2 linked regions of the Homo sapiens genome follow. The protein of the gene in region 1 interacts with the protein of each later gene in a pairwise test. Each region holds a gene or a part of one and is shown in the gene's direction. Other genes may lie near its edges.

Region 1 (7,027 bases):
ATCTTGCCTTCCAGATTCAGTGCAGTTTCTTTTATGTTTTGCTTCTGAAACTACATTTATGTTCTTTGCATAACTAGAAGATTCAAAACTATCCTTTTTATATATTTTTTTCCTAATGATTTCATAAGGAGACCTAACGGAAAACTAGTAGCAGAGGTGAAAATCGAAAATGTCAGGTTATTCCCACCTAGATCAAACCAGTGCCCCCATGGGATTCCCTTTCAAAAGCTATCTGGTCAAAATGGAACTATTTCAGAGACCCAAAGGAGCTAGTGTAGTTTAGGGAGATTTTGTAGCCTGGAGCAAGCCGATGAACTCTTGGCTTTTTAACTTATATATGTAAATCTCAATCTCCATGTGTGTGTGTTTCTGCGTGTGTATGCAAGCTATTTTAAGTGTCTGCTCTTTCTCCTTTTGAACTTACTGCTTACCTAGGAACCCTACAGCACTCGCCCGTGGGACCCGCCGGGCCTGCATCAATTGAGCGAGTTCAAGGTACCCATTGTATCTGTGGGTTTCCTTTTGCTTGTGGTGTTCAGGGTGGGACGTTGAGAGGAAAAGAGCTGCGTGGCAGTCATCCTCGCGTTCAGAACCCAAAAGGGTAGTGTTTTTGGGTTTTTGTTTTTTTAATTTTTTCCTGTTGAGGCCACAAGCCTAAGATTGACCTCTTCACACAGGGCAGAGAACATGGATGATATGGGCATCTGTCCGAGGCTGTACTCCCTCCCTACTGGTGTCAGGAGGCTTGGATGGAATAGCAGTCTGTAAGGAGACAGCGGGTTCTTGCAGAGCCATGGCAGTGTTCACATATGCCAAGACTCTACCTCTGTTTTGTGACTCTGGTCCTTGAACTAAGATTGATTAGAAGGAAAACCAGGAGCATAAGTTTCTCCAGGTCGCAGTGCTAGTCCTTGGCAGGTTGCTCCCCAGTTTGCTCTTTATATAATTCCATCCATACCTCTGACATGGCACAGATTCTGCCTACACCCTGCTTCTGTTCTTGAGCTGCAAGAGGATTCTGCTGTGGTGAGGTTTCACCCACTCTAAGGTGTCTGAATTATGTTGTCAGTGGTATATAGAGTCATTTCTTGTTTGCTTATGTGTCTTTCACAGCAGTAACTCCCCGTTTGTTTCCCTGTCAGTGCCGATGCAAGACCCCAGAGCAGCTATGCAGCGGGGATCCTTGCCTGCGAATGTCCCAACCCCTCGAGGCTTGTTAGGAGATGCTCCGAATGATCCACGGGGAGGCACTTTACTTTCTGTAACTGGAGAGGTAGAGCCTAGGTAAGCACTAACATAGAAGGAAACAGTTGAAGAAATCAGAATTGTCCCTTCTTCCCTGAGAACAAAATCTTTCTGTACCAGTTGTACCTGTTTGCCTACTTCAAAAGGTAGATCAATATTCATGGCCACTGTCCAAGGGTAAGCACTTCTCCTAAGGCAGAACTATGTACTTGAGTATGTCATTTTGAGCTATTATATTTTTAGAAATTGGAAATTTTAGTATACATACTTGAACAGGGAAATTTATAGTAGTGGAAATATTAATAATAGCAATAATAGGCCGGGTGCAGTGGCTGACGCCTATAATCCCAGTACTTTGGGAGGCCAAGGTGGGTGGATCACTTGAGGTCAGGAGTTCGAGACCTGCCTGGCCTACATGGTGAAATCCCATCTCTACTAAAAATAGAAAAATTAGCCGGGCGTGGTGGCGGGCGCCTATAATTACAGCTACTGGGGAGGCTGAGGCAGGAGAATCGCTTGAACCCAGGAGGTGGAGGTTGCAGTGAGCCGAGGTCATGCCACTGCACTCCAGCCTGGGCAACAAGAGTGAAACTCCATTTCAAAAGTAAATAAATAAATAAAATAATGATAGTAATAATAATTGACATTAATGGGGATCATGCCTCTGACTCTGCTCTGAGTACTTTACTTAGATCATCTTATTAAATCCACAAGATCCTGTGAGATGGATACCATTATTAGTCCCATTTTACACGTGAAACTGATGTGTGGAAAAGTTAAATAATGTGTCCAATATCACACAGCTAATAAGTGATAGAGCCTAGATTTGAACCCATACAGTCTGAATCCAGAGCTCATGTTCTTATGCATTGTTCTGCAAACTCATACATATAATGAATATTCGTTGATTCCTCCCTAATTATGAACCAAATAACGAAATTCTAGAATACATGGATTTATATCTCTGTAGCTTTTCTTCCATCTATTTGGTGTTATTTTCTTGTTAGTATTCATAGACTACATCAGCTCTTTGTTGGATGTTTACTTACTGATCTGGTTGGTACTTTGTTGTTGTTTTGTTCTATTTTAAAATACAACGTTTTTCTCCATCTCCAGAGGTTACTTGGGACCACCTCATCAGGGTCCACCCATGCACCATGTCCCTGGCCATGAGAGCCGAGGACCACCCCCACATGAACTGAGGGGAGGGCCATTACCCGAGCCCAGACCTCTAATGGCAGAACCAAGAGGACCCATGCTAGATCAGAGGGGTCCACCCTTGGATGGCAGAGGTAAGGGGAGATCACATTGCAAATGCCATAATGAACTCAACTGTCTTAGGCTCTAATCTGGGATAAAGAATGCTGGAACAGTAGGTTTGCAAGCATCTTTAAGGTTTATCCACAAATCTGAGAAACTGGGGAGGAGACAATAGTCTCATATGTTAATAGCTGAGGGGACAAATGTGACTAGAAGAGATTTCTATCTTTCTTGGATTGTTCATCATTCTTGCAGTACATGCAAGTAGCTACATAATGGTTTTGTTACATTTTTCTTTATAGGTGGAAGGGATCCCCGAGGAATAGATGCACGAGGGATGGAGGCCCGAGCCATGGAGGCAAGAGGGTTAGATGCCAGAGGATTAGAGGCCCGTGCAATGGAGGCCCGTGCGATGGAAGCTCGTGCAATGGAGGCCCGAGCGATGGAGGCCCGTGCAATGGAAGTCCGAGGGATGGAGGCCAGAGGCATGGATACCAGAGGCCCAGTGCCTGGCCCCAGAGGACCTATACCTAGTGGAATGCAGGGTCCCAGTCCAATTAACATGGGGGCGGTTGTCCCCCAGGGATCCAGACAGGTATGTGTAACACTGACTTCTGGCATCCAAGTGAAATCTTGATCTATTCAGGAATTGATTATTGAGCCTAATTATTACTGCCTTCTGACTTGGGCTGTTTCTTAGCTTGTTAGAAAGGGAAGACTTGGATCTCCCTGTAGCTTCTCTGTCCCTTAGGGTGGTGATTTTCTGGCTATCAGGATTGTAGTTCAAAAAAAAACAACCTTATCCCACAATAAATAGCTATTCATTTGGAGCAGAGCCCCTGAAAATTTAGGGGTTAGAAAGTAGTCTTGATTGGGGTACAAACCAACATCATGTACACGGTTTTTTCCAAGATATACTTGCCCGGATCTCATCCGAGGTATAACTCAGAATCTCTTATTAGTAGGATCTGAGCATGGATAGTTTGAAAAACTTCCCCCAAATGATTCTAATGTGAACCCTGACTGGGAACCACTGGGTTAGAGTATATGAAGAGCTGTTAGTGGCCATTTAGATAATCTTAGGTTTAGAGAGACCTGTGTTAATTTATTGTCATCACATAGCCTAAGTGAACAGTGGAATGTGAAAGGCAGTTTATTAATAATCACCTTAAAAGGTGTGGAACCGAAGTCTTGTCTCCTCTCTTTTATTTGGATCTCTCTGCCTGTGTGTACATGCTCCCTCTTCATCTCGACTTGGTTGTGGAGAGGTGGTATGTGTGTTTCTTCCGTGAGTTTTTATATGCTGGCACCTTCATTTCCCTCTAACTGCTCCACCTTCCTTTTCCCCCCTTCCTCTGCGTACTTCTCTCTTCTTTTTTTATGTGTCTTCCTCCCCATGTCTGTGTGTATGAGAGAGAGAAAGATAATGGCAGAGCTGGAATGGAATACATCAATCATCTAATTCCCTCAGTTTATAGATTTGGAAATTAAGGCCCAAGAATTCAGGTGACTTGACCAAATTCACATGACTAAAAAGTGGCAGAGCAAGGAACAGAAGCCACTACTTTTTCCACTTTACTACTCTGTCCTGTTATCTGCACATTTGTGTGTGTGTATATGTGTGGATATGTGTCTACCCCCTCCTCTGTAATATGAAATACAAATAGAGGGTTTTTTTGCTATGTGTAGAATAAAACTGTTCTCTATTGTGTTTGAAGTGTTTGTGGGCCTTGATTTTTATTGTACTCTCTATGGTCAGTAGCCTAGTAACAGAAATGGTTTTTATGCATTCATTCTGTCACTCAGCAAATATTTATTGAGCACCTACTATGTACCAAACATAGATCTAGGTACGGGGGATACTGCAGTGTGAACAGAACAAAGCCCCTTCCCCCATGGGCTTACATTCTAGTTGGGAAGACAGATAACAAACAAATAACTACATAATGCGCTTACATAATTTTACTGGTAGTTCTATGATGCAAGACATTGCAAGTAAGGGTTGGAAGAACATTTCTGGATAATATTTTGCTCCTTTCTCTCTGCTGGTACTTGAACTTATTACCCTAATACTAGGTTTATACCATTTTTATTAGTAGATTCGATAAAGCCAATTAGATCTGAGGCAAGAGAAAATACAAATTTTATCTTCAAACCTTTAAAAAAATTTTAAATTAATATATTAACTTATAAATATATATATTCGTTCATCTATAAAAGATATATGTATTAAGAACTTCAAGCCAGGCATGGTGACATGCACCTGTAGTGCCAGCACTCTGGAGGCTGGGGCAGGAAGACCATTTAAGTCTAGGAACTTGAGGCTGTGGTGCATTCTGATCGCACCTGTGACTAGCCACTGCACTCCAGCCTGGGCAGCATATTAGACTCCCATCTTTAAAAAAAAAAAAAAAGCCAGGGTAGAATCCTGTAGTCCCAGCTACTCTGGAGGCTAAGGCAGGAGGATCAGTAGAGCCCAGGAGTTGGAGGCCCGCCTACACAAGATAGTGAGACCACATCTTAAACTAAAAGGAACCTTGCTTCCTCTCCTATGCTTGTCTCCCCTGTGGCCCTCTAGGTCCTGTAGATAATCACTTTTATTAGATTTTTCATGTTACTTTCTGGAAAACATGAATATATATTATTTTTCCCCTTTCACTGTTCTATACCTTTTTTTTTTTTAACTTAACAACATGTCCTTAATTCATACTTTTAAATTAGATTTTAAAATTAACTCTAGTCCACTTAGTTAGAAACTTGTGGGCAAAAGGCTTATTATTACTAGGGTGATTATATAATTTATCATCTAAAGGAGAACATGAAAGAAAGTGCTGTTACTTTACTTGGAGGCAAAAACATAAACTGGGACTATCTTAGGGAAACCAAGATGTATGGTCACTTTTGCTAGTACTTGTCTGCCTAGAACAAGCACACCTAGAAACTTAAAATGGCCGTTATTGAGTGGTTAGATCACAATTACAGTACCTCAGATTAAAGCTTCAAAAAGATTATACTCAATTCCGAATTGTGCTGCTATAAACTCATGTGACCAAACACCACCTGTTCCCCAATAACCTATGGAAATAAAAAATTTTAAAAAAAAAGATTATACTCATAGGTGTTTCAGACCCATAATAGCTCGTTAATGTTCAGACTGGTCTCTGGAAACTTGTCTCTGGTTTCAGTATTGATAATGAACAGAACAGTGATAATATTCTAGCAGTCTATACAAATCTGTACTAATGTTTCATCTATCCATTGTCTTTGGGAAATGAGTTAATGCATGTAAGTGAATGTTCCAGATAATAGAACTATTCTACCAAGTTTTTTAACTTTTTTAATAAAAAATTATAAAAAGTATTTGATATTTCCTTTCTTGAACAGGATACAAAAAAATAGTTTAATCAGTTTTGACTACTCAAGGTCATCATTGAATAGATTCATTATTGTCTATACCGTAATATAAAACATAGTTATCTCCTGTTTGGTTTCTGGTCTCCTTCACTGTCAGGCCGTCACCTGGCTCTTCATATTACTGAAGTGGTATCTGCTCCTAACAGTTATTTATCCGTATTTCTTTTATGTTTTGCTGCTTCTAATCTGCTGGGTAAGCAGGTAACAAGTTTGTTAACAATATGTGTTTATTAAGAGAGTACCTAAGCTCTGGGTGAATGCCTGAGTGTGAACATAATGCTTGTATAGGGACATTCTAACAGTTAGATTTGGTACTCAAGAGGTCTTTTCCTTGGGTTCTGGTAGTCTTGCAAAGGGTTGAACTCATTGAAGATCTTAAGTACCAGTAAGTATGATATCACTGTACTTGGTTTTTTCACTCCAGTCAGTCATATTTTTTGGTCTACATTTAGCAGAAAGCATCTGCCATATGTTCTCTATGGAAAGCTATAAACAGCAAATGTTGGGCTAATAGCAGTCTTTTTCCTGGAGGCCTTCCCATTGCCTTTCTGCCTCTCTGACATTATGAACATCTCTGCCTCACTTGTGGGATAGGGCCCTTTGGGACAAACTACCTGTATCTGATTGAACTAGGGTAGGGGGTGGCCCTGTGAATGTAACTTCCCCAGTGGACCAGCATACATTTTCTCTAGACTCTGTTGGCTTTCATTTGTATTTCCAGTGAGCACTAGTTTCCAGGGTGTTCTCAGTTTTCACTGTGCTTATTTGGCTGAATTTTGATTAATTCAGTGGTATCCAGTTGTGCTGTGTAATATTTGTTGATGATGCTGGAGGTGTTGTAAGCAAGTATGTCGAACTTGCTAGTTGATCTCTGGCTAAACCCTGCCTTCTGCTATTGCTAACAGTAGAAAATGATCTTCAGAGTCATTGATTTGCTTTTTTTACTCATATCTGTATAGAGATCATAATTTGTCACATTATTACTGAATTCAGGTTACCTATACATTAAAAATGCCAAAAATCTCTCTTTTCTCTTTGTACACATAGGTCCCAGTCATGCAGGGAACAGGAATGCAAGGAGCAAGTATACAGGGTGGAAGCCAGCCTG
Region 2 (7,027 bases), on another chromosome or scaffold:
GCGATGATGTGCTCATGTCTGCCATGTCAGCCTTCACATCCCTGGACCAGCCCATGCCCCAGGGCCCCCCACCTGTGCAGGTAAGAAGGTGTGGGCTTCTCACAGGGTCTTGATTCCAGACCTGTACATTAACTCCTGCAGATTCAGAATCTTGTAGAATAAAGGGGGCCTGGCCCCAGCTCTCCCTGATGCTGAGGGAGGCTATCAGCTTTCCCTTGTCCAGCTCTGCTATAGATGGGGAAGCTGCTACGTCTAGGTGGGGACCCAGAACATGTGGGGCTTTGTCAATACAGTGCAGCTATTTTGACTTTTTTTTTTGAGATGGAGTCTCACTCTGTTGCCCAGGCTGGAGTGCAGTGGCACGATCTTGGCTCACTGCAACCTCTGCCTCCTGGGTTCAAGTGATTCTTCTGCCTCAGCCTCCTGAGTAGCTGAGATTACAGGCATGTGCCACCACAGCCAGCTAATTTTTTTTTGTATTTTTAGTAGAGACAGGTTTTCTCCATGTTGATCAGGCTGATCACGAACTCTTGACCTCAAGTGAGCCCCCCACCTCAGCCTCCTGAAGTGCTAGGATTACAGGTGTGAGCCACTGTGCCCAGCCAATTTTTGTATTTTTAATGGAGACGGGGTTTCACCATGTTGGCCAGGCTGGTCTCAAACTCCTGACCTCAGGTGATCCTCCCACCTTGGCCTCCCAAAGTGCTGGGATTACAGGATTACAGGTGTGAGCCACTGCACCCAGCCTGACTTTTGTTTTTGTTCTTTTTTTTTTTTTGAGACAGAGTCTTGCTCTGTTGCCCAGGCTGAAGTGCAGTGGTGCGATCTTGGCTCCCTGCAACTTCCACCTCCCAGGTCCAAGCAATTCTCCTGCCTCAACCTCCTGAGTAGCTGGGATTACAGGTGTGCGCCACCACGCCCAGCTGATTTTTGTATTTTTAGTAGAGATGGGGTTTCACTGTGTTGGTCAGGCTGGTCTCAAACTCATGACCTCAGGTGATCCACCTGCCTTGGCCCAAAGTGCTGGGATCACAGGTGTGCGCCACCGCGCCCAGCCTTGTTTTTATTCTTAACAAGTGTCCCATGTCTATTAGAAAAATAGAAAATGCACAGTAGCTCCCTGGGATTTAAAAAAAAAATTTTTGTAGAGATGACCATCTCCCTTTGTTGTCCAGGCTGATCTTGAACTCCTGGGCTCAAGGGATCCTCTAGTGTCGGCCTCTCAAAGTGCTGGGATTGTAGACGTGAGCTACTGCACCTGGCCAGGATTTTTTAATACAAAAAAGATCTGTGGCCAAAGGAACCTAAGGTGGAGGTGTTTTACTTCTCCCCTTGCTGTGTCCCTGGATTCTTCCTGCCATATAGAAATCCTTTTGATTTTCTCAACCGAGACTTTTTTTTTCCCTGTTTGGGAACCCAACGAACACAGTGAAGAAGAGGACCCCGTGTCCTTTATGAAATGCTGATCAGCATCATGTTTTTATTTTTGAGACAGCGTCTCACTCAGGTCACTCAGGCTGGAGTACAGTGGTAGGATCATAGCTCACTGTAACCTCAAACTCCAGGGCTCAAGCAATCCTCCCTGCTCAGCCTCCTGAGGAGCTGGGACTACATACATGGTGCCAACATACTTGGCTAATTTTAAAAAAAAATTTTTTTTTTTTTGAGATGGAGTCTCGCTCTTGTCACCTAGGCTGGAGTGCAGTGGCACCATCTCGGCTCACTGCAATCTCCGCATCCTGGGTTCAAGCGATTCTCCTGTCTCAGCCTCCTGAGTAGCTGGTATTACAGGCACCCGCCACCATGTCTGGCTAATTTTTGTACTTTTAGTAGAGACAAGGTTTTGCCATGTTGGCCAGGCTGGTCTTGAACTCCTGACCTCAGGTGATCTGCCCACCTTGGCCTCCCAAAGTCCTGGGATTACAGGCGTGAGCCACCGTGCCTGGCCTAAAAAAATTTTTTTTTAGAGACAGAGTCTCGCTATGTTACCCAGGCTGGTCTTGAACTCCTGGGCTCAAGCAATCCTCCTCCCTCTGTCTCCCAAAGTGCTGGGATTACAGGTGTGAGCCACTGCACCCAGCAGTACCATCATTTTAACAACTGCAAAGGATTCCACCATATGGATAGGCCATCTTCTGCTTAGCCAAGTTTCTATGTATAGACATGTAGGTCATTGCTGTTTTTTGCTTTTATGAAAATGGCTGGAGTCACTATCCATAAACAGACATCTTTGCCCACCTGCTTGATTTTTTTTGTAGCATAAATTTCTAGAAGTTACTGGCTGCGTTTCACGACTACCCACACATTCATGATTCTCTCAAAAGACTCACGGGACTCAGAGGTAGTTGTACTCATGGCTGTGGTTTATTACAGCAAAGGAACACACAGCAAGATCAGCAAGGGAAAAAGACACATCAGGTGGAATCTGGAGGAATCCAGAGTTCTCTGTCTTGGGGAGGTGGGGAGAGGTTGCACAAAACACACTTCTTCCTGCAGCAGTGAAGTCTAGCAACATGTGTGCTGTGTTTCTACCCAGGGAAACACACTTCAGACTCCAAAGCCAGGGTTTTGTTTGTTTGTTTGTTTGTTTGTTTTTCTGAGACAGGGTCTCACTTCAGCTGCCCTGGCTGGAGTGCAGTGGTGCAATTTCGGCTCACTGCAACCTCCACCTCCCTGGGCTCAGGTGATTCTCCCACCTCAGCCTCCCAAGTAGCTGGGACTACAGGTGTGCACCACTATGCCTGGCTAATGTTTTTGTATTTTTAGTAGAGATGGGGTTTTGCCATGTTGCCCAGGCTGGTCTCAAACTCCTGGACTCCACCCGCCTCAGCCTCCCAAAGTGTTGAGATTACAGGTGTTAGCCGCTGCACCAAGCCCAAGGCCAGGGTTTCTGTTAGGGATTGGTCATGTAGGTGACCAGCCACCATGACCAAAATTCCAGACTCCCAGAAGAGAAGGAAGTGTTCACCATGAATCACATATTTTGTCCAAGCAGTCTACATAATCTGGTACAATAGAACAGTGCCCCAGGTGGGCAAAATAAGCCTTATCAACAAAGGAGATGTCCCACAAACCAGATTCTCAGATCCCAGTCACGAGCTAGTGCTGCAAGCAAGCCCCCCCCCCTTTTTTTTTAATTTTATAACTTTATTTGAGGTATTTGATGATCAGCGATTAGTTCTCATCCACATTGACTGTCTGTAGATTTTTGAAAGTGGTAACAGGTACATAGGTAACCAAAGTATAGAGCTTATTTGGTGGATCTTCATCCTCATAACATTTTCTGGACAACCGCACACGGATGCAGTATGGGACATTCTTTATTCCTTTGTCTCAGACAGCTTTGTTGAGGCTGGTATCAATGCACACATCTGGAGTTCCCATCTCCTTCATGGCAAGTTTCCGAATCTCTTTGAGTGCCTGAGGAGCACGCTTCTTGAAGCCACTCCATGGATGCACTTGTGAATGTTGATGGTGTATTCTCAGGTCACCACCTCATTGATGGCCGAATGACCCTTTTTCTTCTCGCCACCCTTCTTTCTGGGAGCCATTCTGCTGGGTCCAAGATGGAAAGGGAAGCCCTTCTTAAGATAGCAACATTAGGCTGCTATATTAACTCTTTTCTGCATGAATGAGGTCATTTTTGCCTATTTTCTTTTCTTTTTTTTTTTTTTTTTTGAGATGGAGTCTTGCTCTGTCACCCAGGCTAAAGTGTGGTGGTGCAATCTCCACTCACTGCCAGCTCCGTCTCCCAGGTTCACACCATTCTCCTGCCTCAGCCTCCCGATAGCTGGGACTACAGGCGCCCGCCACCACGCCCGGCTAATTTTTTGTATTTTTAGTAGAGACAGGGTTTCACCATTAGCCAAGGTTGTCTCGATCTCCTGACCTCGTGATCCGCCCGCCTCAGCTCCCAAAGTGTTGGGATTACAGGCGTGAGCCACTGCGCCCGGCCATTTTTGCCTACTTTCATAGGGAAAAGGGATAGCAGCACCAAGCTGAGGCTTCCTTCGAATTCTCCCATGACTTTGTTTCCCCAACCTCTCTTAGCCCCTCTCCTGAGCTGTCTGGTAAGTAGCTGTTTTTCCACCTGGCTGGCTAAAGCAAATGTCCTTCCTTCCTGATAAATAAGACAACTGGTATCAAGAGGCTATAACACTTTTTCTTTTCTGATTTCAGAGCAGCCTGAACATGCATTCCGTGCCCAGCTACCTCACCCAGCCTCCACCTCCTCCTCCACCTCCTCCACCACTGCCCCCACCGCCACCACCTCAGCCTCCACCACCTCCACCCCAGAGCCTGGGCCCCCCTGGGCGTCCCAACCCTGGTGGGAACGGTGTGGTGGAGGTGTACAGTGCTGCTGCGCCCCTGGCTGGGAGTGGAACGGTGGAGATCCAGGCACTGGGGATGCAGCCCTACCCACCCCTAGAGGTGAGCAGAGGGGGCAGGGTGGAAGAGGACACTGGTCATGGACATCATGGCCAACCCGGACCCATCCTGAGCACCAGCTGTGTGCCAGACACTGTGCTGGGGATACCATGAAAACCAGACCCGGTCCTGGCCTTCATGGGGTGTACCACATCACAGGGGAGAAGGACTTTAATCAAAGCATCACACCCACAGATGTAAGATGCAAGCCATGAGAAGGTGGAATGGAGTACAGGTTGTAGCAGAAATATAAGCTGCCTGCAGGTAATGCTCAGAACAGTCAGAGAATGCCTACCTTTTCAGGCAAAAAAAAGAAAAAAGATTCAAAAAAATTATCTGCCTGAGTGTCTCTTACAGTTTTTAATAAGCTAGGTGTATCAGTTAGCTATTGCTGGGTAAGAAATATCCATCAGGCATCAGTGGCATATACCAAAAGTGTTTATTATTCACGTGTTTACAGTGGTCAGCTAGACAACTGCGGATCTTGGCTGGGCTCACTCATATGTCTGAACGTTGGCTGGCTGTCAGCTGCTCTAGGATGGCCTGGGCTGGGACAAGTGGGGTGACTCAGCTCTGTTCTGCGTGACTCTCATCCTCCACTAGGTTCTCATGGCCATGGTGGAGGTGCAAAAATGCAGACAGAAATGCCCAAGGCCTTTTGAGGTTTAGGCTTGTAAGTAACACAGAATCACTTCTATTGGCCAAAGCAGATCACAAGTCCAGCTTAGATAGCGCAGGTAGGGAAATAGATGCCACCTCTTGATGGGAGGAACTGCAGAGTCACACTGCAAAGGCTTGGGTACAGGGAGGGGCAAAGAATTGGTGCCATAATACAATCAATGTACCATACTAATTCCCTGCCAATGAGCTCTAAGTTATAGGCCATCTACTTGAAATGCACTGAGTTCATAGAACCTTCCAAGACACCAGTGCTAGAGGGTATGGTTATGACAGAAACAACCCACCTGCACTAGAAATCACACTAACTCAGACTCACCATAGAATCCAGCCACAGACATCCCCTGTCAGGTAGTCTCTTTATGTAAAGAGAGCCCAGACCAGTGGGAAGATCCCACCACGAGGCATTCACGTGATGTTCTGAGGGGCTGCGAGGGGATTTGCCCTACCCTGGGAGAATAGAACAAGCTTCTCTAGGGAATTTATTGCATTGAGAAAAAGTTAAGTTAGTGGGATGCTGAGATAATGCTGGTGGCTTGTGGTAGTCAGAGGGGACCAGCCCAGAGAGGACCAGCACAGAAGGAGCTGCTGCTGTTGATTTTCCATGTAGATGAGGGTATTTGAGGGCAGGGTCTGAGTCTTACTAGACTTTGCATCCTTAGCACCTAGCAGAGCACTCCTAGAGTAGATATCTTACATTGGACTGTCTGACCTCAGTCTGCGCTCCTCTAAAATGGGAACTCTCCTGAAAAGCTGTTGAGGATAATAAGAGCCTATGCCAGTGGCAGTCACATTAATTACTCAGTAATGCCTTGAGTGATGGCTGAATTTATTCACGTGACAAGTATTTATTTATTTATTTGAGACAGAGTCTCACTCTATCGCCCAGGTTGGAGTGCAGTGGTGTGATCTCGGCTCACTGCAACCTCCACCTCTCAGGTTCAAGCGATTCTCGTGCCTCAGCCTCCCAAGTAGCTGGTATTACAGGTATGAGCTACCACGCCCAACTAATTTTTTTTGTATTTTTAGTAGAAACGGGTTTCACCATGATGGCCAGGCTGGTCTCGAACTCCTGGCCTCAGGTGATCTGCCTGCCTTGGCCTCCCAAAGTGCTGGGATTACAGGCATGAGCCACCACACCCGTCCCAACAAGTATTTATTGAGTGCTGTATTGGTCAGGGTTTGGTCAGGAAAATAGAAACCAGGCAAGGTATTTCTGCAGAGGGATGTTTTTTCTTTTCTAAATTAGAGATAGGGGTCTCACTTTAGCCCAGGTTGGTCTCCATCTCCTGGCCTCAAGTGATCCTCTCACCTCAGCCTCCCAGAGTGCTGGGATTACAGGCATGAGCCACCATACCCGGCCAGATTTTATAATTTTTTTTGTACCTTTTTTTCAGCTTTGTCTGATTTTATTACTCCAACTGTAGCTTTCTATTTATTTATATTTGTCTGAAATATTTTTTCAACTTTGGGCTTTTTGCTGAGTTGAATTCTTTTTTTTTTTTTTTTTTTGAGACTGAGTCTTGCTCTGTCACCCAGGCTGGAGTGCAATGGCATGATCACGGCTCACCACAGTCTCGATCTCCCAGGCTCAGATGATTCTCCCACCTCAGCCTCCTGAGTAACTGGGACTACAGGCATGCACCACCATGCCCATCTAATTTTTTTAATGTTTTGTGGAGATGAGATCTCCCTATGTTGCCCAGGCTAGTCTCAAACTCTTGTGCTCAAGTGATCCTCCTTCCTCGGCCTGCCAAAGTGCTGGAATTACAGGCATGAGCCATCGTGCCTGGCCAGAGATTTTGGATAGGACACCTCAGGAAGACCAATGGATGATGAATAGGCCAGGCACAGGGGCTCACGCCTGTAATCCCTGCACTTTGGGAGCCCGAGGTGGGTGGATCACTTAAGCTCAGGAGTT

The links. The genes of interacting proteins can lie anywhere in the genome.
Region 2: the proteins of CSTF2 (region 1) and ZNF341 interact in binary tests that used the Homo sapiens proteins (3 or more experiments, as listed by UniProt).

What each region holds. Positions count from the first base shown.
Region 1 is NC_000023.11:100,830,373-100,837,399, forward strand, and holds part of CSTF2 (cleavage stimulation factor subunit 2), read left to right. Parts: intron 1-435; coding exon of another isoform or gene 436-495; intron 496-677; coding exon of another isoform or gene 678-850; exon of another isoform or gene 851-1,136; intron 1,137-1,142; coding exon 1,143-1,284; intron 1,285-2,361; coding exon 2,362-2,537; intron 2,538-2,807; coding exon 2,808-3,100; intron 3,101-6,966; coding exon 6,967-7,027. UniProt on the Homo sapiens protein: One of the multiple factors required for polyadenylation and 3'-end cleavage of mammalian pre-mRNAs. This subunit is directly involved in the binding to pre-mRNAs.
Region 2 is NC_000020.11:33,748,993-33,756,019, forward strand, and holds part of ZNF341 (zinc finger protein 341), read left to right. Parts: coding exon 1-80; intron 81-4,179; coding exon 4,180-4,431; intron 4,432-7,027. UniProt on the Homo sapiens protein: Transcriptional activator of STAT3 involved in the regulation of immune homeostasis. Also able to activate STAT1 transcription.